4 linked regions of the Homo sapiens genome follow. The protein of the gene in region 3 purifies or fractionates together with the protein of the main gene of each other region. This does not show direct contact. Each region holds a gene or a part of one and is shown on either strand. Other genes may lie near its edges.

The links.
Region 1: the proteins of LBX2 (region 3) and SPATA33 purify together in Homo sapiens (affinity purification with mass spectrometry; one large-scale study listed by BioGRID and IntAct). This does not show direct contact.
Region 2: the proteins of LBX2 (region 3) and GGPS1 purify together in Homo sapiens (affinity purification with mass spectrometry; one large-scale study listed by BioGRID and IntAct). This does not show direct contact.
Region 4: the proteins of LBX2 (region 3) and PREPL purify together in Homo sapiens (affinity purification with mass spectrometry; one large-scale study listed by BioGRID and IntAct). This does not show direct contact.

The regions. Positions count from the first base shown.
Region 1 is NC_000016.10:89,662,836-89,668,442, forward strand, and holds part of SPATA33 (spermatogenesis-associated protein 33), read left to right. Parts: intron 1-5,607. UniProt on the Homo sapiens protein: Plays an important role in sperm motility and male fertility. Required for sperm midpiece flexibility and for the localization of sperm calcineurin to the mitochondria. Promotes mitophagy as well as acts as an autophagy mediator in male germline cells.
Region 2 is NC_000001.11:235,334,332-235,339,938, reverse strand, and holds part of GGPS1 (geranylgeranyl pyrophosphate synthase), read right to left. Parts: intron 4,698-5,607; 5' UTR 4,675-4,697; coding exon 4,605-4,674; intron 1-4,604. UniProt on the Homo sapiens protein: Catalyzes the trans-addition of the three molecules of IPP onto DMAPP to form geranylgeranyl pyrophosphate, an important precursor of carotenoids and geranylated proteins.
Region 3 is NC_000002.12:74,496,187-74,502,107, reverse strand, and holds LBX2 (transcription factor LBX2), read left to right. Parts: upstream 1-2,504; 5' UTR 2,505-2,570; coding exon 2,571-2,775; intron 2,776-3,789; coding exon 3,790-4,181; 3' UTR 4,182-4,591; downstream 4,592-5,921. UniProt on the Homo sapiens protein: Transcription factor.
Region 4 is NC_000002.12:44,350,323-44,355,929, reverse strand, and holds part of PREPL (prolyl endopeptidase-like), read left to right. Parts: intron 1-5,607. UniProt on the Homo sapiens protein: Serine peptidase whose precise substrate specificity remains unclear. Does not cleave peptides after a arginine or lysine residue. Regulates trans-Golgi network morphology and sorting by regulating the membrane binding of the AP-1 complex.

The sequences.
Region 1 (5,607 bases), on a different chromosome or scaffold from region 3:
CAGGCTGGAGTGCAGTGGCACAATCTTGGCTCATTGTGACTTCCGCCTCCCGGGTTCAAGCAATTCTTCTGCCTCAGCCTCCCGAGTAGCTGAGACTACAGGTGTGCGCCACCATGCCTGGGTAATTTTTGTATTTTTAGTAGAGACGGGGTTTCACCATGTTGGTCAGGCTGGTCTCAAACTCCTGACTTTGTGAACCACCCGCCTCAGCCTCCCAAAGTGCCAGTGTTACAGGTGTGAGCCACCACGCCCGGCCTGTAACATTTTCATGAAGGTAGAGTATACTTAATTGCAAGAAAATTTTGAAAAAGAAGAGAAATGGAACACTTCTATTGGCTATTAAAAAATACCATGCTGAGTGAAAAAAGCCAATCCCAGAAGGTCACATGCTGTATGATTCCATTTCTTTTTTTTTTTTTTTTAGGCTGGAGTGCAAATGGCACGATCTTGGCTCACTGCAACCTTGGTCTCCCGGGTTCAAGCAATTCTACCTCGGCCTCCGGAGTAGCTGGGACTACAGGCATGCGCCACCATGCCCAGCTAATCTTTGTATTTTTAGTAGCGATGGGGTTTCTCCATGTTGGTCAGGCTGGTCTCAAACTCCCGACCTCAGGTGATCCGCTTGCCTCAAACTCCCGATCTCAGGTGATCCGCTTGCCTCGGCCTCCTGAAATGCTAGGATTACAGGCGTGAGCCACCATACCCGGCCGTGATTCCATTTCTGTAACATTCTCTGAATGACAAAATTATAGACAGGGAGGACAGATTGTTGATTGCTAGGGCCTTGGCGTTGGGGTAGGGAGTGAGGGGGTCTGTGAAGGGCAGGGCTTTGGGGTTGGGGTAGGGAGTGGGTGTGTCTGAAGGGCAGCAGGAGGAAGATGGGATTGTTGGTTTTGGTGGTGATTGATTAAATGGCGTAGCTGTACATACACTCATAGTACCGGAGTCCATTTCCTCGTGTCGATAATGGTACTATAGTTATATAAAACGTTCGCTTTGGGAGCCAAGCACAGTGGCTCACGCCTGTAATTTCAGAACTTTGGGAAGCCTAGGCAGGCAGATCACTTGAGCCCAGAAGTTCAAGACCAGCCTGGGCAACATGGTGAAACCTGATTTTTACAAAAAAGACAAGAATTAGCTGGGTGTAGTGGAGTGTGCCTGTAGCCCCAACTAATCAGGGGCCTGAGATAGGAGGATCCCTTGACCCCATGAGGTTGGGGCTGCAGTGAGCCAAGATCGTGCCACTGCCCTCCAGCCCCGGCGACAGAGTAAGACCCTATTTATGCTTCCTAGCAAGGAAAGACAGTACACATATTGAAGAATTTGACTGCGTTAAAATGTTAAACCTCTCCCCAAACTCTTATAAACAATTGTAGAACAAATGATAAGCTCAAAAAAATATTTACATCTATGAGAGGCCAAAGAATATCAGTTGACTCTGGATCAGGGGCTCGGACACGTTGCTGTGGAGGCACACATCTTCCTGGAAGGCGGTTTGGTAACAAGGTGGCAGGACTCAAGACAGCCCACACGATCCCTGCCCCTGGGAAACAGCCATGTGTAACCCTCCCCTCGAGTGTGGGTGGAATGAGGAAGAGGGAGGTGTGTCTCTCCTGCGATTAGCTCACTCATCCATTGAGTTTGACGTCATCAAAATGCGAGATGATCCTGGATGGGCCCGACCTGATCAGGGAAGCCAGACAGTAAAAGTGTCAGAGGCTCTTTAGGGCCCGACCTGATCAGGGAAGCCAGACAGTAAAAGTGTCAGAGGCTCTTTAGGGCCCGACCTGATCAGGGAAGCCAGACAGTAAAAGTGTCAGAGGCTCTTTAGGGCCCGACCTGATCAGGGAAGCCAGACAGTAAAAGTGTCAGAGGCTTTTTAGGGCAGCGAGAAAACGGGAACTTCATTCCTTGAACCGGGAATAAATTCTGCCTCCAACCAGAATGGGCTTAGAAGAGGGTCCTCCAGCTCCTCATGAGAATGCAGTGCAGCCGGCCCCTGGAATTCAGCCTGCGTCCCAGCCACGCTGCACCTGCACCCCTGACGACGAATGCAGTAAGATGATAAGTGGATGTGCTGGTTTCAGCCCTGAAGTTGGTGGTGATTTGTTGTGCAGCAATAGAAGTACACACAATATGTACCAAGAACCTTGAGAAGAGTCACATTTATTCTTTCTGTTTTGTTTCTGAGATGGTCTCACCCAGGCTGGAGTGCAGTGGCACCATCTTGGCTCATTGCACTCTTGACGTTCTGGGCTCAAACGATTCTCCCACCTCAGCTCCCTGAGTAGCTGGGGCCACAGTGCACGCCACCACCCCCAGCTATTTTTTGTAGTTTTTGTAGAGATGCGGTTTTGTCATGTTGCCCAGGCTGGTCTCGAACTCCAGAGGCCAAGCAATCTGCCTGCTTCAGCCTCCCAAGGTGCTGGGATTACAGGCGTGAGCCACCGCACCTGGCCCAAGATTAATATTTCTTTTTTTTTTTGAGATGGAGTCTTGCTCTGTCGCCACCCAGGCTGGACTGCAATGGTGCATCTCTGCTCACTGCAAGCTCCGCCTCCCGGGTTCATGCCATTCTCCTGTCTCAGCCTCCCGCATAGCTGGGACTACAGGTGCCTGCCACCACGCCTGGCTAATTTTTTGTATTTTTTTTTTTTTTAAGTAGAGATGGGGTTTCACTATGTTAACCAGAATGGTCTTAATTTCCTGACCTCGTGATCCGCCCGCATCGGCCTCCCAAGGTGCTGGGATTACAGGCGTGAGCCACTGCGTCTGGCCTAATATTTCTAAATGAAGAAACTATACTTTGAGGAAGATGAAATAAGTCTTGTTTTAGACTAGAAAATTTCAATAGTGTAAATACGTTAACTTCTGTAAAATCAGTCAACACCAAGTCAAAACACAAAAGATCTTTTGGGAATATGAGCAGATTATTCAAAGGTTCATCTAAAGAATAAAAATGAGGCCAAGTGTAGTGATTCACGCCTGTAATCCCGGCACTTTGGAGGCCGAGGCAGGTGGATCACTTGAGGTCAGGAGTTCAAGACCAGCCTGGCCAACATGATGAAAGCCCATCTCTACTAAAAATACAAAAATTAGCTAGGCGTGGTGATGGGTGCCTGTAGTGCCAGCTACTTGGGGAGGCTGGGGCAGGAGAATCACTTGAACCTGGGAGGTAGAGGTTGTAGTGAGCCAAAATTGTGCCACTGCACTCCAGCCTGGGCGACAAGAGTGAGAATCCATCTCAAAATAAATAAATGAATAAAAATGAAAGCAGTAGGAAACATCTGGAAAACCAGAGGCATGAGGGGGTCGGGCCCTCTGATACTCAAGTAGGTTAGAGTAAAAAAAAGCCAGATATGGTGATGTGGGAATATATGGTCCCATAGGTGGGATCTGTGGTTCCAGCTACTCAGTGAGGTCCGAGGATCACTTGGGCCTGGGAGGTTAGGACTGTAGTTTGCTATGATCACATCCACGAATAGCCACTGCGCTCCTTCCTGGGCTACAGAGTGAGACCCTTCTCTAAAAATGGAAGAAAATGGCCGGCACAGTGGTTCATGGCTGCTGTAATCCCAGCGCTTTGGGAGGGTGAAGTGGGAGAATAACTTGAGCCTGAGAGTTCGAGACCAGCCTGGGCAACATGGCAAAACCGTGTCTCTACAAAAAATTTCAAAATTAGGTGGGTGTGGTGGTGTGTAGGGTCCAGCCCCACAGGGTCGGTGGGTTTTCTCCCCATGTGCGGAGATGAGAGAGCGTAGAAATAAAGACACAAGGCAAAGAGATAAAAGACAGCTGGGCCCGGGGGACCACTACCACCAAGCCGTGGAGACCGGTAGTGGCCCCAAATGCCAGGCTGCACTGATATTTATTGGATACAAGACAAAGGGGCAGGGTTAGGAGTGTGAGCCATCTCCAATGATAGGTGAGGTCATGTGGGTCATGTGTCCACTGGACAGGGGGCCCTTCCCTGCCTGGCAGCCAAGGCAGAGAGAGAGGAGACAGAGAGACAGCTTACGCCGTTATTTCAGCATATCAGAGACTTTTAGTACTTTCACTAATTTGCTACTGCTATCTAAAAGGCAGAGCCAGGTGTACAGGATGGAACATGAAGGTGGACTAGGAGCGTGACCACTGAAGCACAGCATCACAGGGAGACGATTAGGCCTCTGGATAACTGCGGGCAAGCCTGACTGATGTCAGGCCCTCCACAAGAGGTGGAGGAGCAGAGTTTTCTCTAAACTCCCCTGGGGAAAGGGAGACTCCCTTTCCTGGTCTGCTAAGTAGTGGGTGTTTTTCCTTGACACTGACGCTACTGCTAGACCATGGTCTGCTTGGCAACGGGCGTCCTACCAGACGCTGGCGTTACCACTAGACCAAGGAGCCCTCTGGTGGCCCTGTCTGGGCATAACAAAAGGCTCACACTCTTGTCTTCTGGTCACTTCTCACCATGTCCCCCCAGCTCCTGTCTCTGTATGACCTGGTTTTTCCTAGGTTATGATTGTAGAGCGAGGATTATTATAATATTGGAATAAAGAGTAATTGCTACAAATTAATTAATGATATTCATATATAATCATGTCTGTGATCTAGATCTAGTATAACTATTCTTATTTTATATATTTTATTACACTGGAACAGCTCGTGCCCTCGGTCTCTTGCCTCGGCACCTGGGTGACTTGCCGCCCACAGTGGTGCGTGCTGGTGGTCCCAGCTACTTGGAAGGCTGAAGTGGGAGGATCATTTGAGCCCAGGAAGTTGAGGCTTCAGTGAGCCATGATCATGCCACAGCATTTCAGCCTGGGCCACAGACCTTCAAGATCCTGTCTCAAAAAGAAAAAGGGATATCGCTCAGTGCTTAGTGCAGCTGTGGGTCATTCGGCAGCTGACACAGATGAGGCTATGTAACGCAGCACTGCAGGCAGAGGGGGAGGCCAAGGCCTGAATACCCCGTCTGACTAGCCTTAGGCAGGCGACTTGGCCTCTCTGCCTCCCCCATCTGGTTAGCCTTGGGCAGTCGAGTTGGCCTCTGTGTCTCCCCTGTTTGACTAGCCTTGGGCAGATGGCTTGGCTTGTCTGTACCTCAGTTTTGTCTGAAATATGGGTTGTCAGAGACCTATAGCAGAAGCTGCTGTGTGTCATTATTCACTGTTCTAGGGCTCAGAACAGGCACGCGATAAAAGCCAGCACCGTTGGCCGGGCGCATTGGCTCACGCCTGTAATCCCAGCACTTTGGGAGGCCAAGGCAGGTAGATCACCTGAGGTCGGGAGTTCAAGACCAGCCTGGCCAACATGGAGAAACCCTGTCTCTACTAATAATACAAAAATTCCCCAGGTGTGGTGGCAGGAGCCTGTAGTCCCAGTTGCTCAGGAGGCTGAGGCAGGAGAATCACTTGAACTCAGGAGGTGGAGGTTGCAGTGAGCCGAGATCACACCACTGCACTCCAGCCTGGGTGACAGAGCGAGACTCCGTCTCAAAAACTAAGAAGAAGATTAATAATAAACCAGCACTGCCATTGCCAGCAGTCCATCCTACCTCGCATCCAGGTTCGTGAGCTACCAAGTGTCCCCACAAAGCTGTAAAACAACATGACCACTGTAGTTACG
Region 2 (5,607 bases), on a different chromosome or scaffold from region 3:
TAGTCACATACAAAGGAATGATAGATAAAAACCATGGCCAGTTCACTTAGTAAAAATGTTCTATAAGTTTTCTGCTAAATGAATGCATGGTAATAACATCCTAATTTTAGATAAGGTTTCAGGAAAATGGTTACATAAAAAGTTAAAACTAAAATACTGTTTTCTTTTTTTTTTTTTGGAGATGGAATTTCGCTCTTGTCACCCAGGCTAGAGTGCAATGGTGTGATCTCGGCTCACTGCAACCTCCGCCCCCTGGGTTCAAGCGATTCTCCTGCCTCAGCCTCCCAAGTAGCTGGGATTACAGGCACCTGCCACCACACCTGGCTAATTTTTGTAATTTTAGTAGAGACAGGGTTTCACTATGTTGGCCAGGCTGGTGTCAAACTCCTGACCTCAGGTAATTCACCTGTGTTGGCCTCCCAAAATGCTGGGATTATGGGTTTTTTTGTTTGTTTGTTTGTTTGTGGAGATGAAGTTTTGCTCTGTCACCTAGGCTGGAAAGCAATGGCACGATCTTGGCTCGGCTCACCACAACCTTCGCCTCCTGGGTTCAAGGGATTCTCCTGTCTCAGCCTCCCGAGTAGCTGGGATTACAGGTGTGCGTCACTACGCCTAGCTAATTTTTTGTATTTTTTTTCTGAGATCGAGTTTTGCTCTTGTTGCCCAGGCTGGGGTACAGTGTCACGATCTTGGCTCACTGCAACCTCCACCTCCTAGGTTCAAGCGATTCTCCTGCCTCAGCCTCCTGAGTAGCTGGGATTACAGTCGTGCGCCACTAAATCCAGCTAATTTTTTGTATTTTTAGTAGAGACGGTTTCATCATGTTGGCCAGGCTGGTCTTGAATTCCTGACCTCAGGTGATCCACCCACCTCAGCCTCCCAAAGTGTAGGGATTACATGCGTGAGCTACCGCGCCCGGCCAATTTTTTGTACTTTTAATAGAGACAGGGTTTCCCCATGTTGGCCAGGCTGGTCTCGAACTCCTGACCTCAAGTCGTCCACATGCTTTGGCCTCTCGAAGTGCTGGGATTACAGGTGTGACCCACCACGCCCGGCCTATTATTATTATTTTTGAGACAGGGTCTCGCTCTGTCACCCAGGCTGGAGTGCAGTGGCACAATCACGGCCTACTGCAGCCTTGACCTCCTAGGCTCAAGTCCCCTGAGTAGCTGGGACTACAAGAACAAGCCACCATGCCTGGCTAATTTTATTTTTATTTATTTATTTTTTGTAGAGGCAGGGTTTCGCCCTGTTGCCCAGGCTGGTCTCAAACCCCTGGGCTCAAAAGCAATCTGTCCCACTTGGCCTCCCAAAGTGCTGGGATAATAAGTCAGCCACTGCACTTGGCCTGTATCACTTAAACACATTTTTTTGAAGATGAAAAACAGAGTCTCAATGTGAAATTTCATTTTTCATTTTACTTTTGAATGTTATATAGAAAACAGTACAATATATGGCTTATTTTTGAGGTACTACAGTTTTAATATTTTTTTCCCCTCTGATGACATGCTAGTGTTTAGCCTGATGCTTTTAAGTTTCCCCCCCTTTTTTTTTTCTGAGACGGGGTCTCCCTTAATCACCCAGGCTGGGGTGCAGTGGTGTGATCTTGGCTTACTGCAGCCTCAACCTCCCAGGCTCCGGTAATCATCCCACCTCAGTCCCCCAGGTAAGCTGGGACTACAAGGGCGTATCACATGCCTGGCTAATTTTTTGTATTTTTAGTAGAGACAGGGTTTTGCCATGTTGCCCAGGCTGGTCTTGAACTCCTGGGCTTAAGCCATCTGCCCACTTCGGTCTCCCAAAGTGCTGGGAGTACAGATGTGAGCCACCGCGCCTGGCTGAGTTCCAAAATAATTTCTAGTACTGAGGCTAATCACAGAGATCTCTCAAAATTAAAAGATTACTGCTTCCTCTTTAAGATCTAAACATTATTGTCTCTCTTTTTGGAGCCCTTCTTCCTCCACTGCCAGCTTCATCTCTCCCTAATCCCACCCTTCACCTCATCTAGGGCCCCACACTAAGGCAAATAAACAAACATAAACATAAGATGACAGCAAGTATGAGAAATTTAAAAATAAAAATAATTTTCTTTACTAATTTCAGAAAATCCTTTTTTTTTTTTGAGACAGTGTCTCACTCTGTTGCCCAGGCTGGAGTGCAGTGGCGTGATCTCGGCTCACTGCAACCTCTGCCTCCTAGGCTCCTGTGACTCCCGTGCCTCAGCTGGGACTACAGGCATGCGCTACCATACTTGGCTAATATTTGTATTTTTAGTAGATACAGGGTTTCACCATGTTGGCCAGGTTGACTTCAGAAAATACTGATAGCATTATTATTATTTATTAGCAAGAGTAATATTACAACAGTATAAATGACCTGGCACACCTCTAAGTTACTTTAGTAACTCTGAAGCTCTCTGTAAAAAAATAAGTGTGTTATGTGCATAGTGCAATGTCATATTTCTTTAGTAGTATCTTTTGAGGTTGTATTCCATCATGGATCAAGAACGTACTTGAATAAAAAGGTGAGGTACCTAGTGATAATTTTAAATATGTTATCTAATGTCTTAAAACATTATTTCCAAGTAATGAGAATTAAAAAAAAGGAAGTCACAGAAGGTGGTCACAGCATAAGTAAGCATTATGGTTAAAATGTAACTGTAGGCAGTCCTTGCTTTGTAAGTAGCAGAGTAAGAGACATTCAAGCGATGCTTGTTAGACTTTTGTCAGCACTGATAACTGGCTTGCTATTAATGCCAGCCCAGTTCCAGCTAGTGTTTGTGAGCGTGTTCTAAAGGATGTCTGGCAGTAAGAGCTGGGTAGAGTGAAAGTGAAACTGTGCCATGTTTCTCACTGGGAGATACTGAAATAAGTTACTAACTGCTGGATAAATGTCACTCAAAAGCAGTCTCTTGGCTTTTTCTTAAACAGTGGGCAACCTTCCCTTTGAATTCTCCATTTCTGTCATTCCCTCATTCTTCTCATGCATTGACATTAGCAGGCGAGTCTCTATTAGGGTCGGCCAAAATAAAAATGACACTAATTATGGTTTCCAAGGTGTAGCACAGGAGCAAGCATTCTTTTGGCTTTTATCCTTCCCAGGCTCATGAAGAACAGAAATGCACATATTACCACAGAGAAGTGCTCATAAAGAAAGGTGTGTACTTTAGCACGGAAATTTAAAAGTGTCTATTGAGACTGAATTGAGAGCATCATTAGAGTTTAGTCACAGTATGGCTAAATAGGTTTTTATGCTTGTCAAATAATTTACCAACTTTTATATTATTTCTTCTTTTTTAAAAAATGTTTAAAACAGAGAGGGGGACTTGTTATGTTGCCCAAGGTGGTCTCAAACTTTTGGTCTCAAGCAATCCTGCCTTGGCTTCCCAAAGTGCTGGGAATACAGGTGTGGGCCACCACACCTGGCCTATATTATGTCTATGAGAAAGAATATTCTAATACAAATGATTTTTTATTACAATAACCCCTGTTTATTATATTCATGAGTTTTTGCTTATTATCATTTCCAGACAAGTTCTTCTTTTTTTTTGAGTCGGAGTCTCATTCTGTTGCCAGGCTGGAGTGCAGTGATGCAATCTCAGCTCACTGCAACCTCTGCCTTCCAGGTTCAGGTGATTCTCCTGCCTCAGCCTCCCGAGTAGCTGGGACTACAGGCATGCGCCACCATGCCCAGCTAACTTTTGTGTTTTTAGTAGAGACGGGGTTTTACCATGTTGGCCAGGCTGGTCTCAACCTCTTGACCTCATGATCCGCCCGCCTTGGCCTCAAAAAGTGCTGGGATTACAGGCGTGAGCCACCACGCCCAGCCTCCAGACAAGTTTTTAAAGAAGCAAAATAAAACAAAAACACACACGTACACGTGAGGTAGGAAGCCATGTCCAAGGTGGCATACCCTTATACAGGAATAAAGTGGGCTATATTTCCAAATACTGTGATTTTAGATACATTATTATTTGGCTCTCAAAGGAACCAGTAGTATATGAAATGCAGTGTATGTGTGAGATACTGGAAAATACAGACATAGAAGGTAAACTTGAACATGTATGGTAAATAAAGTGTTCTACTGTTAAACAAATCTGCGTAACTTCCCCTAATATCTAAACAGTGGGGAATCTGAATGCGTAATATCCGTAAAGAGTACAACCTCCAATGAGATACCAAAATGTTTTAAGTATTTTTATTTTTCAAGATATGTTAAATAATTGGATATGTTTTAAAGGGTGCCTTCAAAAATTACGTTTCTTTTTAAGAGACGGGGTCTCACTATGTTGCCCAAGCTGGAGTGTAGTGGCTATTCACAGGTGTGATCATTGTGCACTATAGCCTTAAACTCCTGGGCTCAAGCCATCCTCCTGCCTCAGCCTCCCAAGTAGGTGGGACAACAGGTATGTATCACTGCACCTGGCAAAAATTACCTTTTAATAAAGAAAAAATTATAATGTTCTATTTATCATTTTTCTCATACGCATCACCTTAAATAGAAAATCTCAACGGCTAGCAAGTCTAACCTTTTCTATTTGCTAACATTTGAACGACCACTACTGCATGAAAATGACCCTATATGGACTGTAAGTGAAGTATTACCTGGTAACTGAAGTAAGTATTTATAGGGTTCTAGAAGAATTCTTTGGACTGTTTCTTGAGTCTTCTCCATTGGATTTAAACTTCAAAGCTAATCTGTCAAAAAGGAGAAACATAAAGATCACATGAAACTAATCATCTTTCAGTGTCAAACTGCAAAGGAATTTGTATTGCAGGGTGTTTGTGAAAAGACACCTAGTCTGGTTTAAAAAGAAGATTCTGTTGCTGGGCACGGTAGTTCACGCCTGTAATCCCAGCACTTTGGGAGGCTGAGGCGGGCGGATAGCTTAAGCCCAGGAGTTCGAGACCAGCCTGGGCAACATGGCAAAACCTTGTCTCTACTAAAAATATGAAAAATTAGCTGAGGTGGGTAGATCATGAGGTCAGGAGTTCGAGACCAGCCTTCACACCATCTCTACTAAAACTACAAAGATTAGCCGAGCATGGTGGTGTGTGCCTGTAGTTCTGGCTACTTGGGAGGCTGAGGCAGGAGAACTGCTTGAACCCGGGAGGCAGAGGTTGCAGTGAGCTGAGATCACACCACTGCACTCCAGCCTGGGCGAAAGAGTGACTCCAGTCTCAAAAAAACAAAGCAAGATTCTACAGCTATGAAGCCTTGAAAACATGTTAAGTGAAAGAAGCCAATCTCAAGAGACTACATATTGTATGATTCCATTTATACGAAATGTTCAGAATAAGCCAATCTACAGAGAAAGAAAGTAGATTAGTGGTTAGGAACAGGGACTAATTGCTAATGAGTACAGGGTTTCTTTTCGCAGGGATCAAAATGTTATAAAATTAAATTGTGATGGTTGCACAGCCCTGTGAATACACTAAAAACTGCTGAAATGTACACTTTAAATGGGTGGTATGTAAATTATATCTCAATTAGAAAATTCTTCATTCAAGTGATTATATTGGTCAAAGTGTTGTCTTGGTTTTTAAGTTGTTTTCTTAGTCACATAACTTATATTAAGCTTTTCCTATTTTAATCAACCACAAAAGG
Region 3 (5,921 bases):
CCCGAAATGTCTGAATGGACAATCAAAGGAATCTGAGAAGGTGGGAAACACAAGAGACTGCCTGAAAAGGAAAACCGTTGGCCCCGCGGGGCCAGCGGTGAAGGCTGGCCTCCGTGCATCTCTTGAGAAGGATCGTGAACAGGGAGGGTTCTACCCGCGGGTGGGAAGAGGCGAGCACCCAGGAGCTTCTGTGCTTCCAAGCTGGGGTGGGGGGTAACCTATAGGACAGCCGAGTGAGTGTCCCCTCCCCAACCCAGAACAAGTTTTAATCTCTTAATCTTCCTCATTAATCACTCACCCTCCTACCCCTCTCTGTGGATCCGATTTCGCCCCAGCTCGAGTTCCAGTACTGAGAAAAGTCCCCTTCTGTGGCCCCACGATCCCCTGGACTAGTCCCTGGCCGCTTTGACGACCTTAGAGGGGCCTCTGCTGTCCTGGGCCTCCTCCCTTTGCTACTCTCCACTTCCATCTCCTCCCCCAAACTCATGTTTAGGAGCTGTCCAATCCCAGTACCTGAGCCCAGCTGCAGAGGGGAGAACTAGGCGGGAGAGATGGAAGGGGCTGTGAGGCACAGGCCCATCAGCAGAGCTCCACACTCCTCACAGACACACGTAAGTAATTGAGAGCAGAGGTAGAGACAGACACAAAAGCCACATAGAGGATGCATGAGTGAAGGTTGCAGCATCTGCTTGGTGATATGCCTGGGATGCAGTGGGGCAGTTCCTGCTGCCTCCAGAGAGCTGCTTTATTGCACATTAAGTGAAACCACTAGGATGGTTTCCAGGGCTGAGGCCTGTAGCCCGAAGATCTCTCCAGGCCCTCCCCTGCCCCTCACCATTAATAACCATTTAACAACGTCCTGAGGCAGCTCAGCTTTCCACCATGGCCTGGCTCTGCTCTTTGATCCAGCAGTGGCCCATCAGCCTTTAAGTGTGTTGCTCAGCTTTCCAGGAGGGCATTATGTGAATGTTGCGGGTGGGGGAGGGGGGTTGTTGGAGTGAGCCCTTTACCAAGAAGACCCTATCAAGGTGCCTTCCCATCTTTGTCAAGGAGTCTTTGGCCCAGGTGCCTTGGATCTCCTAAGCCCTGTTTAGGGAACCCCAATTGCATGCAGCAGTTGCCCCAGGGAATAGACAGGTGGACACTGCACAGATGGTGGGAGATGCAGGGGTCTACAAGGAAAGTGACATAATGGACAGTCCAGGAGGGACTGGCCTGGTTTTTCCTGACACTGTTTTAAAAAGCTAGAAGCACATCAGTTTCTGACTTCCCTGGGCAGCAAAGCAGCAAGCTCCTCAGGAGTGGCAGGGCTTCCCTGCTCTAAGGTGTGAATCCTCCAGCTGTTTGGGGTGGAATGTAGGAACAAAACCCATACCCTGCTGGGCCTCAACTGCTGAGGCCCCACTGTCCCTGAGCTGCCTTCTTCCTACAAAGGAGGGCTGTGGGTGCTTACCCAGGTATGAGCCCAGAACCAGAATAAGTGTGGCAGATAAAAAGGGCCCAGATTAAATAGGAATGAGTATACCAGGCCTCACAGTTAGTACCTGGGTTGTCAGGAATGTCCCAAGATCCAGCTGGGTCCGTGAAGTCTGCCCTTCAAGTCTCTCTTCTATGGGGAGTGACCCCTCTCTGGTCAGGGCACCTTGCTCCCCTTGGCAGTTTCTGAGCCTCTGCAGGCTGGGGAAACCATACATACCTGAACTATGGGAGCTTAATAAAAAGAAGATAAAGACAGACAAAATCGACTGATTTTGCCAGTCCTCACTGACAAAGACCCCTCCTGGGCAGTTGCACCAGCTGGGAGTTCCCTGGGTCTTCTCTCCTGCGGCCCGGGTCTCCCGGCAGCTTCTCTGTGTGTTCTGATTTCGTCAGGTGGGGCAGCCTCGGGTCCATTCACCTGTGCTTGCTTCTTCGTGGCATCCCCACTATTCCCAGTTGCAGTCGCTCCGCCAGGCCAGGTCCTCCCAAGTGTTGCGCCCCCGACCCATGCAGCACTAATCACTTCCAGCCGTCAGGACCAGAAACAACGTTTCTCAGGGGTGGGGTGGGGAAGAGGGAGCCAGGTTAGGAGACTGAGGTCCTAGCTGGGATCAGAGATCCCAGCACAGTCAGCCCTGATAGCCTTCCTCAGAACTTTGCAAATCCCCAGCCGCTGGGGCCAGAGAAGGCAATTTTATCGTCTACTAGTTTATGAGCCGGAGCGGCGGCTAGGCGGGGAGTCGGCGGCATACAGCGTCTGGAGGTATGGCCCGGCCTGACTGTGCACGGTGCAGCGCCCCGCAGCGCGGAGCAGCCCCGTGGCCCTGCTCTGGTGGGTAGTTTGGTCGGCTTCTGCTCTCCGCGCCTGCCCCAGCCTGTAGAAATACCCTCCCCGGACATCTAGGAGCTCCAGATCCACCGCGGCCCGGGGTGGAGAGGTGGGGGCGCAGGAGGAGGGGCACACGGGACTCGGGCCCAGAGCCGGGGGCGGGTCCGAGGCTGGGGGCCCGGATTGGGAGCCGAGCACTGGGGCCCAGGCGTTTGCGGAGCCTAGCGCAACGGACAGCCGGACCGCCCCAGCCCGGCCGACCATGAACTCGGGACGCGAGCCCCGAACACCCCGGACACTCTTAAGCATCGCAGACATCCTAGCCCCGCGCATGGTCCCCCGAGCACCCTCTGCGCCGCAGCTTCCAGAGTCGGGTCCGGGTCCAACGTCGCCGCTGTGCGCGCTGGAGGAGCTGACTAGTAAAACTTTCCGCGGACTTGACGCGCGCGCTCTGCAGCCCTCTGAAGGTATAGAGCCGGCAAGGTCGCGGACTCTGACTTAGCCTTTTCCTCACCTCTCTCCTCCTGGTTCCCCGTCTCAAACCTTTGTCCCAGCCCAGGCCACCCACCCTAATCCTCCCCTGTCCTCAGCCCACGTGCCAGGACTCGCACCTGCGACTTCTCACCTCTCCTCCGTTAGTCCCTAGGTTCCGCGGCGGCTCCGGAAGGCCGCCAGTGCCAAGGGAAAAGGGCAGACCGTCGCCAACTGAGCGACCTGTTGCTCTGTTCCTTGTAGGCGGGGCAATCGCGATAGAGAAAGGCAGGAGAGAAAGAGACAAAAGGCTTCAGCCGCAGGCGGTAAACGAGTGAGCCTGCAAAGGCGGCACAGAAAGCGCTGGAGAGTCGAGTCTTTCCGGGTGACCAAGCTCCGCTCCAAGCCACTCTCTTCTCGAGGGGAGTCAAGGAGCAGAAAGCCCTTGGCGCAGCACTGGGCGCGGGATTCCGCACTCTGCCTTTTCTCGCTCTCTGTACCTCATTATCTCCCTTTGGGGCCGGAGGAGCGGGCTCTGGTGTCACTAAGGAACTGTAAACCGAATGCCCGACCCGATCCATGGAAGGGCATGATCTAAGTCCTGTTACCACCACCACGCTGGGTCGGCTGCCCTGACTCTTACTCGCCTCTGATGTCACCCTCAACTTATAGCCTGCTCAGCCTGAGGCTCCTAAAAGCCTCAAAGGCTCCACCCCAGAAGGTTTGACCCTGCACCTCTGAATCATCCCTCCCTTCCTTCACTTCCTTGCCCCTACAATATGCCCTCAGCCTGCTGCCTTTCGCACCCCTGTGGCCAGCCCGCTTTGCGCCCCATATCCCCACCTGGGCCTGACTCCCGATAAGGGATCACAGTTCTGGTCTCCGTCCGCCTTCCTGGCTCTCCCTCTACTTCCCCCACCGCCACCGGCCCGACCCCACCCCCAACTTTTCTTTCCAGGCCCAGCCTGATTCCCGGAGGCTGGAAACTGACCCCCTCCCTATCCCTACAGGGCGGGCAGGTCCGGACGCGCTGGGCCCTGGTCCCTTCGGCCGCAAACGGCGCAAGTCACGCACTGCGTTCACCGCGCAACAGGTGCTGGAGCTGGAGCGGCGCTTCGTCTTCCAGAAGTACCTGGCGCCGTCCGAGCGAGACGGGCTAGCTACGCGACTCGGCCTGGCCAACGCGCAGGTGGTCACTTGGTTCCAGAACCGGCGAGCCAAGCTCAAGCGCGATGTGGAGGAGATGCGCGCCGACGTCGCCTCGCTACGCGCGTTGTCCCCGGAAGTCCTGTGCAGCTTAGCACTGCCCGAAGGCGCTCCAGATCCCGGCCTCTGCCTCGGCCCTGCCGGCCCTGACTCCCGGCCCCACCTGTCAGACGAGGAGATACAGGTGGACGATTGAAGACAAAGCCGCCGCCAATCCTGGGCTCTGGGGCCCTGGACTCCTCACCTCGCGCTCTGCCTCTGGCCAGAGTTCCAGGGTGGAGGAAGGAGGTCCACTTGGGCCTCTTCCGGCCCACAGTCCAGACGCTCACCTTTCCCGGTTTTTTTGTAAGTTTGTTTTGTTGTCTGAGACAGGGCCTCGCTCTGTCGCCCAGGCTGGAGTGCCGTGGAGCGATCACCGCTCACTGCAGTCGCGACCTCCTGGGCTCAAGCGATCCTCCTGCCTCAACCTCCCGACTAGCTGGCATTACAGGCGTGCAGCACCACCCCAGGCTAATTTAAAAAACTTTTTTTTTTAGAGAGGAGGTCCCGCTATGTTGTCCAGGCTACTTTCCCAATATTTGAGAATAAAGTCGAGACTCTGCCGCACCATGCCTCTATCCAGACGCCCGCCAGAAGCAAGAAACAGTAAAATCTGTAAAGTGCTATGGGGAGTCCGCACTTGGCACTGTGCCAGGGCTTTCAATGCAATGTTTCCTTTAGCCCTTATAGCAACCCTTTAAGGTAGGTAATAATTACACCATTTTTACAAAGTCAGAACCCTGAGGTCAGGTTTTGGACCCAGCATCCAGCCAGCCTTCAGAGCTGATGCTTATCAGTCTACCAAGGGGAAGTCACCGGGCCTGAGTGAAAGACAGTGGGGCCTTGGCCCACCTACTGTCTGCCTGGGAGACCTTGATTCTAATCCCTAGGTTGGCCCCAGAGTGATGACATTGTTTCCCCACCTGTTAATGGGTTCCTGACCCTTTCCCCATCCTGCCAAAAGAACCCTCCGCTGGGACACAGGCAAATAGACGGGTGCCCAGAGAGGCCACACCCCTACCTGGAAGACCTCTGCCAGGCCCCTGGGCCAGAAATTTTACCACTAGGATGGTGGCAGCAGCCAGAGGGTGGAAAGGCTTGGCCTGCTGGGGCGAAGCTTGGAGTAGTGGCCTTGCCTGGTAGGGATTCCAGCCTAACTCAGCCAGTGGACATTTCTGACATTCATTTATTCCACTGGTGATAATCACCCTCCTGCAGTGTGAGGGGAGAGGAGGGGGAACGCTCAGTAGTTGCAGGCCTTCCCCTCCCCAGTGGTCCCAGCCAATCTTCAGATCAAGCTCAGTTGTCTTTCCTGCTTCCCTTCTCTCCTGTCAGTCCTCTGGCTCTCTTCAGACTTTCTCCTGCCTCTGCCTAAGTGTGACAACCCTACTTTCAAGGAAGTTCCATGGGTTCAACGGGGGTCAGCTAGGGCCTTAGTTGCAGGTGGAGGGCCCAAGAGAGAATATTCCTTGGAAAGTGAACAAGGCTGGAAGGCAGAAGGGAATCTGGCATTTTCAGACAGTACCACTTATTAAGCAGTTCCAAGTGCTTTGCAGGTATTAATCCTTAAAATAACCCAACAGGACAGAGACTTTTCTTTCCATTTTAAGGATGAGACTGAATTACAGAACCCTGAGGAAACTTGGCCAGGTCACAGTTTGTAAGTGGTGGCACAGGGACTGAGCTGTTTGCTTGTCCGACTCAGGAGCCCATGCTCTTGGTCTCTATAAAGGTGACTGAGCCTAAAGGAAAGAAGCAAAGGATTTACAGAGAAAGGGGAGGAGAAAGGGCCACAGGTAGGGACTTAGGCATTGTACTTTAGAGCATGGTCCCTGGAGGTTTTAGAGAAGAGAGACAAGAGACCATTGTTTAGGGTAGGCCAATCTGGCTGTGGGCG
Region 4 (5,607 bases), about 30 Mb from region 3:
AATAGTGATAATTTGAACAAGATACAAAATGAAATTGTATAATTAAAGAGAGAAGACTAAATCCTTTGGTTAAACATGTCATTTGCCTATTTCTACAATACAGGTTAGCAGCTCCTGCAATAGTCTCATATTCATATGTGTGTGTGTGTGTATATATATATATATATATATATATATAATATGTAGTTTTGTATATCTTGCAAAAAGTTTGAGCTACATCCTTTTAAGCAATAGAATGTTATTGAAAAATGTAGGCGCAATCAGATTTGCATTTTAGAAGAATCACTCTGACAGAATAGAGAATAAATTGGAAGTAGGAAGCCTTGTCAGTAACTCAGATGAGTGAAGATGAGAGTCTTTACAGGGTGATTGCTTTTTTTTGAGACAGTGTCTCACTCTGTCACCCAGTCTGTAGTGCAGTGGCACAGTCTCTGCTCACTGCAACCTCCACCTCCCAGGCTCAAGTGATTCTCGTGCCTTAGCCTCCTGAGTAACTGGAATTACAGGCATGTGCCACCACACCCAGCTAATTTTTTTATATTTTAAGTAGAGACAGGGTTTCGCCATGTTGGCTAGGCTGGTCTGGAAGCCCAGCCTCAAGCAATCCACCTGCCTTGCCCTCTCAAAGTGCTGGGATTACAGGCATGAGCCACCGCAGCTGGCCCTGATTACATTTTATTTGAGACATCTTAATGGAAGACTAGAGAGCTTGAGTGATAATTCCTCATCTCTTTGGATTCTAAAATCCAAAAGCCTGTTAGAAAACAAATGATTTTTTTTAACTGATTGGAGGCTGTTGAGAATGGGCAAAACCTGACCTAAACTGACACAAAGCTATTATGATCTTTATCCCAATTAGTAGATGTTTAGCTCTAAAATGTTACTGCATTTGATTAGAGTGTTGTTCCCCTGTAAACTGAGATAAGGTACCCAGTTAACATTCCAAAATCTCAAAATTCTAAAACGTACCTGGTTTATCTTTATGTTTCAGATGGACTTATTTCACAGTCATGTATGTAATCTTACTGATATTCAGATCTTAAGGGTGAAGAAGGCCGGGCGTGGCGCCTCACGCCTATAATCCTAGCACTTTGGGAGGCTGAGGCGGGTGGATTGCCTGAGGTCAGAAGTTCAAGACCAGCCTGACCAACATGGCAGAACCCCATTGCTACTGAAAATCCAAAAATTTTAGCCGGGCCTGGTGGCGCATGCCTGTAATCCCAGCTACTCGGGACGCTGAGGAAGGAGAATCACTTGAACCCGGGAGGTGGAGATTGCAGTGATCTGAGATCGTGCCACTGCACTCCAGCCTGGTGTGATGGGAGCGAGGCTCCATCTCAAAAAAAAAAAAGAGAGGAGGAAAGGATAAATATAACTCACTAGTAAAGTGGAGATTTCAGTAGCAGTTGGATATATGAGTCTGGAATTTGGGGAGAGTTGTTACATGTAGATAGTAGTTGAAGCCATAGGAGTCAAATCACTATATTTACCTCTCTGCTATTACTACATCATTTTAAACTTTTCCTGTCTCCCCATTATATTGGGAGGTCCTTAAAGACAAGAATTTTATAATACACATCTTGCCAGCACATAGCATAACGACTGCCACATTGTAGATAAGCAACGTGTTTATAGAATGAATTAATAGTTAAATTAATGCATTTTTTCTTTTCATATAACCATAAATTTTATTGCTAGAAAACATACCCCAGAAATCATCCCATCTGAGCTCTTTCTTTAGGTCTTTGATACTTTTTTTGTTGTTGTTGTTGTTGAGAGAGGGCCTCACTCTGTTGCTCAGGCTGGAGTGCAGAGGCACAAACATGGCTTACTGCAGCCTCAACCTCCTGGGCTCGTGCTGTCTTCCTGCCTTACCTTGCAAGTAGCTGGGCCCACAACTATGCCCAGCTAATTTTTTGATTTTTTGTGTGTGTGGAGACAGGGTCTCACTTTGTTGTGCGGGCTTGTCTCAAACTCCTAAGCTCAAGTAATCCTCCTGCCTCAGCCTCCCAGAGTGCTGGCATTACATGTGTGACCCACCATGCCCAGCCCTATGACCCATTTTGAGTTCATTTTGTTTATAGTGCAAGGGATTGGGGTACAACTTTATTATTTTGCTTGTGGATATCCATTGTCTGAGCAACATTTGTTGAAAAGAGTGTTCTTTTTCCATTGAATTGTCTTGGTGTCCTTTCTGAAAATCAACTGACCATAAATTCAATGGTTTATTCTTGACTCTCACTTTCATCTCATTTTTGTATATGTCTGTCGTTATGCCAGTACTACACATTTAATTACTATAGCTTTGTAATAAGTTTTATTTATTTATTTATTTATTTTTTGAGATGGAGTCTCGCTCTGTCGCCCAGGTTGGAGTGCAGTGGTGCCATCTCAGCTCACTGCAACCTCTGCCTCCCAGATTCAAACAATTCTCCTGCCAAGGCCCCCCGAGTAGCTGGGATTACAGGTGCCTGCCACCATGCCCAGCTAATTTTTTTTTTATTTTTAGTAGAGACAGGGTTTCACCATGTTGGCCAGGCTGGTCTCAAACTCCTGACCTCAGGGTGATCTGCCCAACTTGGCCTCCCAAAGTGCTGGGATTACAGGCATGAGCCACTGCGCCTGGCCTGTAATAAGTCTTAAAATCAGGAAGCGTGTGTATTCTTTCTAAACAAATGAAGAAACTAAAGCCACAGAGCCTAAAGTTAAGTAAGAAAACTAGTAGAGTCAGAAGTAGACCTAAGTTAGCCTCATTCACAGTACCTTTCTTTTTTAATATCTTGTAGTACAGGTAGACCATCCCTAATACAAAATCTGAAATGCTCCAAAATCCAAAACTTTTTTAAATAGAGACAGAGTCTTGCTATGTTGCCCAGGCTGGTCTGAAGCTCTTGGGCTCAAGCAATCCTCCTGTCTCAGCTTCCCAAAGTGCTGGGATTACAGGCATGAGCTGCCACTCATGGCCAGTGAGCATCTTTTCTTACACTTATTGATCCTATAGTTTTTCTTCTTGAATGCCTATTCTTGTCTTTTGACCTTCTTTTAATTGTCTGTCCTTTTCTTACTGATTCATAAGATTTCTTTACGTGTCCTTTGTCTTTTATATGTGCTGTAGATATCTTCTCCATATTTGTTCTATTATTATTTTTTTCACTTTGTGATATCTTTTGTTAAATATGTTTTTTTCATTTTATGTTTTATGCTGTCTGAATTTTATTCAACTCAGCAAATATTTGTTGAACACCTGCTATGCACCATTCTAGGCACTGGAGATATAACACTGAACAAAATAAACAAAAATCCCTGCCTTTGTGAAGCTTACCATCCTACTTGAGAAAGGAAAAGAGAAAGAATAAAGAATTACATGAACAAGGCTAGGTGCAATGGGTCATGCCTGTAATATACTTTGGGAGGCTGAGGTGGGCTCATTGCTTGAGCCCAGAAGTTCAAGAACAGCCTGGGCAACATGGCAAAACCCTGTCTCTACAAACAATGCAAAAATTAGCTGGGCATGGTGGCGCCTGTAGTCTCAGCTACTTGAGAGCTGAGATCAAGGATCAATTGCTTGAGCCCAGGAGGCAGAGGTTGCAATGAGCCGAGATCATGCCACTGCACTCCAGCTGAGGTGGACACAAGCAAGTCCTCATCTCTCAAAAAAATAAAAAGAATTACATGAATGAAATACAAAGTGGGTCAAAAGCGATAGTTATGGCGAAGAAGAAAAGAAAAAAAAGACGGGGAAGATGTGAATAGGCAGTGTGGGGATAGGGAGGGGTGTTATTTTAGTAAAATGGTTAGGAAAGGCCTAACTTAGAAGATGACATTTGAGCAATAGCTTTAAGGAGGTATTTGGGCATAGGGCCCAAGTTCTAAGAAACTGATATGGGAGCAAGCTTGATATGTTCAAGAAACATCAAGTATGGATTAACTGGAATAAGTGGGCTTGGCGTGTAGCAGTAGATTAGGTCAGCAATGTAATGGGACAAGATTCTTTAGGACTTTGTAGACCATTGTAAGAATTTTTGCTTTTCCTCTTGAGCAAGATGGGAAACCACTGGAGGGTTTTGAGTGGAGTAACATAATCTGACTTCAGACTCACACAAGCTCCTTTGTTGAAAATAGACCAGGAGGCAAGCGCAGAAGCAGAGAAAGCTTTTGGGCTTTTGCAGTAATCCAAGGGAGAAATGATGATGATACTAGCCAAGTAGTCCAGTCCAAGTGTGAGAAGTGGTCAGATTCTAAATATATGTTGAAAGTAGAATTGAGAGGATTTAGCAGACCAGTTGTTTGTGGCAAGAGAAAAAGACAAATCCAACTGTAATGTTTTTAAGCCTGAGTAGCTGGGAGGACAGATTTGTCATTTATGTAAATTGGAAAGATTGCCTGGAGAACAGGGTTTTGTTTTTTTTTTTTTTAATAGGGCGAGGGATATATGGGGAGATTTAAAGTTCAGATTCGGACATTTTTTGGCATATTAGACATCTAAGTAAAAATGTTGGGTAGTCAGTTGGATATACAAGTTCATCTTGGTCAGGATTGTTCAGGCTACAGCTGTAAATTTGGGAGTCCTTAGCATATAAATGGTATTTAAGGTCATGACTGGATGAGATCACCAAGGGAATTAGTGCAGACTGCAAAGAAGAGAAGTACTTAGTGCAGGAATTGAGCTCTGCCAGTGTTAAAAAGCCAGGGAGATGCCAGGCCCAGTGGCTCACGCCTGTAATCCCAGCACTTCGGGAGGCTGAGGCGGGTGGTTCACCTGAGGTCAGGAGTTTCAGACCAGCCTAGCCAATATGGTGAAACCCCATCTCTACTAAAAATACAAAAAAAAAAAAAAAAATTAGCCAGCGTGGTGAGCAAGTGCCTGTAATCCCAGCTACTCAGGAGGCGGAGGCAGGAGAATCGCTTGAACCCAGGAGGCAGAGGTTGCAGGGAGCCGAAATCCCATCTCAAACAAAAAAAAAGCCAGGGAGTTGAGAAGGAACTAGCTAAAGATACTGAGAAGGAAGGGCCAGTGAAGTAAGAGGAAAACAAGGAGAATGAGGTGTCCTGGAAGCCAAGTAAAGAAAAGTGTTTTTAGGAGGAGGAAGTGATCAATTGTATCATGATCCTGACAGGTCAAGTAATATGAATACTGAACATTAACTTTTGCACTTTGCAATGTGGTAGCCATTGAGTGACCTTGACAGGAGCAGTCAGTGGCATAAGAAGAGCAAAAGTCTGGGCTCTAGAGAAGGGGTAAGGAGAAGAATTGGAGGCAGAAGATGAAAGGAACAAGTTTCCTTCATTTAACAGTTGCTTTTAAAAAATAAAATGAGTTAACAGCAAATACAATTAGTTGTTTTACATGAACATTATTAAAATTTTGGAAATCTCATTGGTGTTTCATGGTTGCTAAATACCATGTATATGCTAATATGAATTAATTTCAGGTATTTTGATTACAGATTTAGTATATTTCTGTGTAAGATAACTGACAGAAACTATTAAGGAAGTTCCTCTCTATTCCTAATTTAAGGTTTTATCATTTTTTTAAAGTGTGATTATTTTTTATTTTTTCCCTGCATTTATCAAAAATGGCTCTAAGATTTATCTCCTTTATTTGTG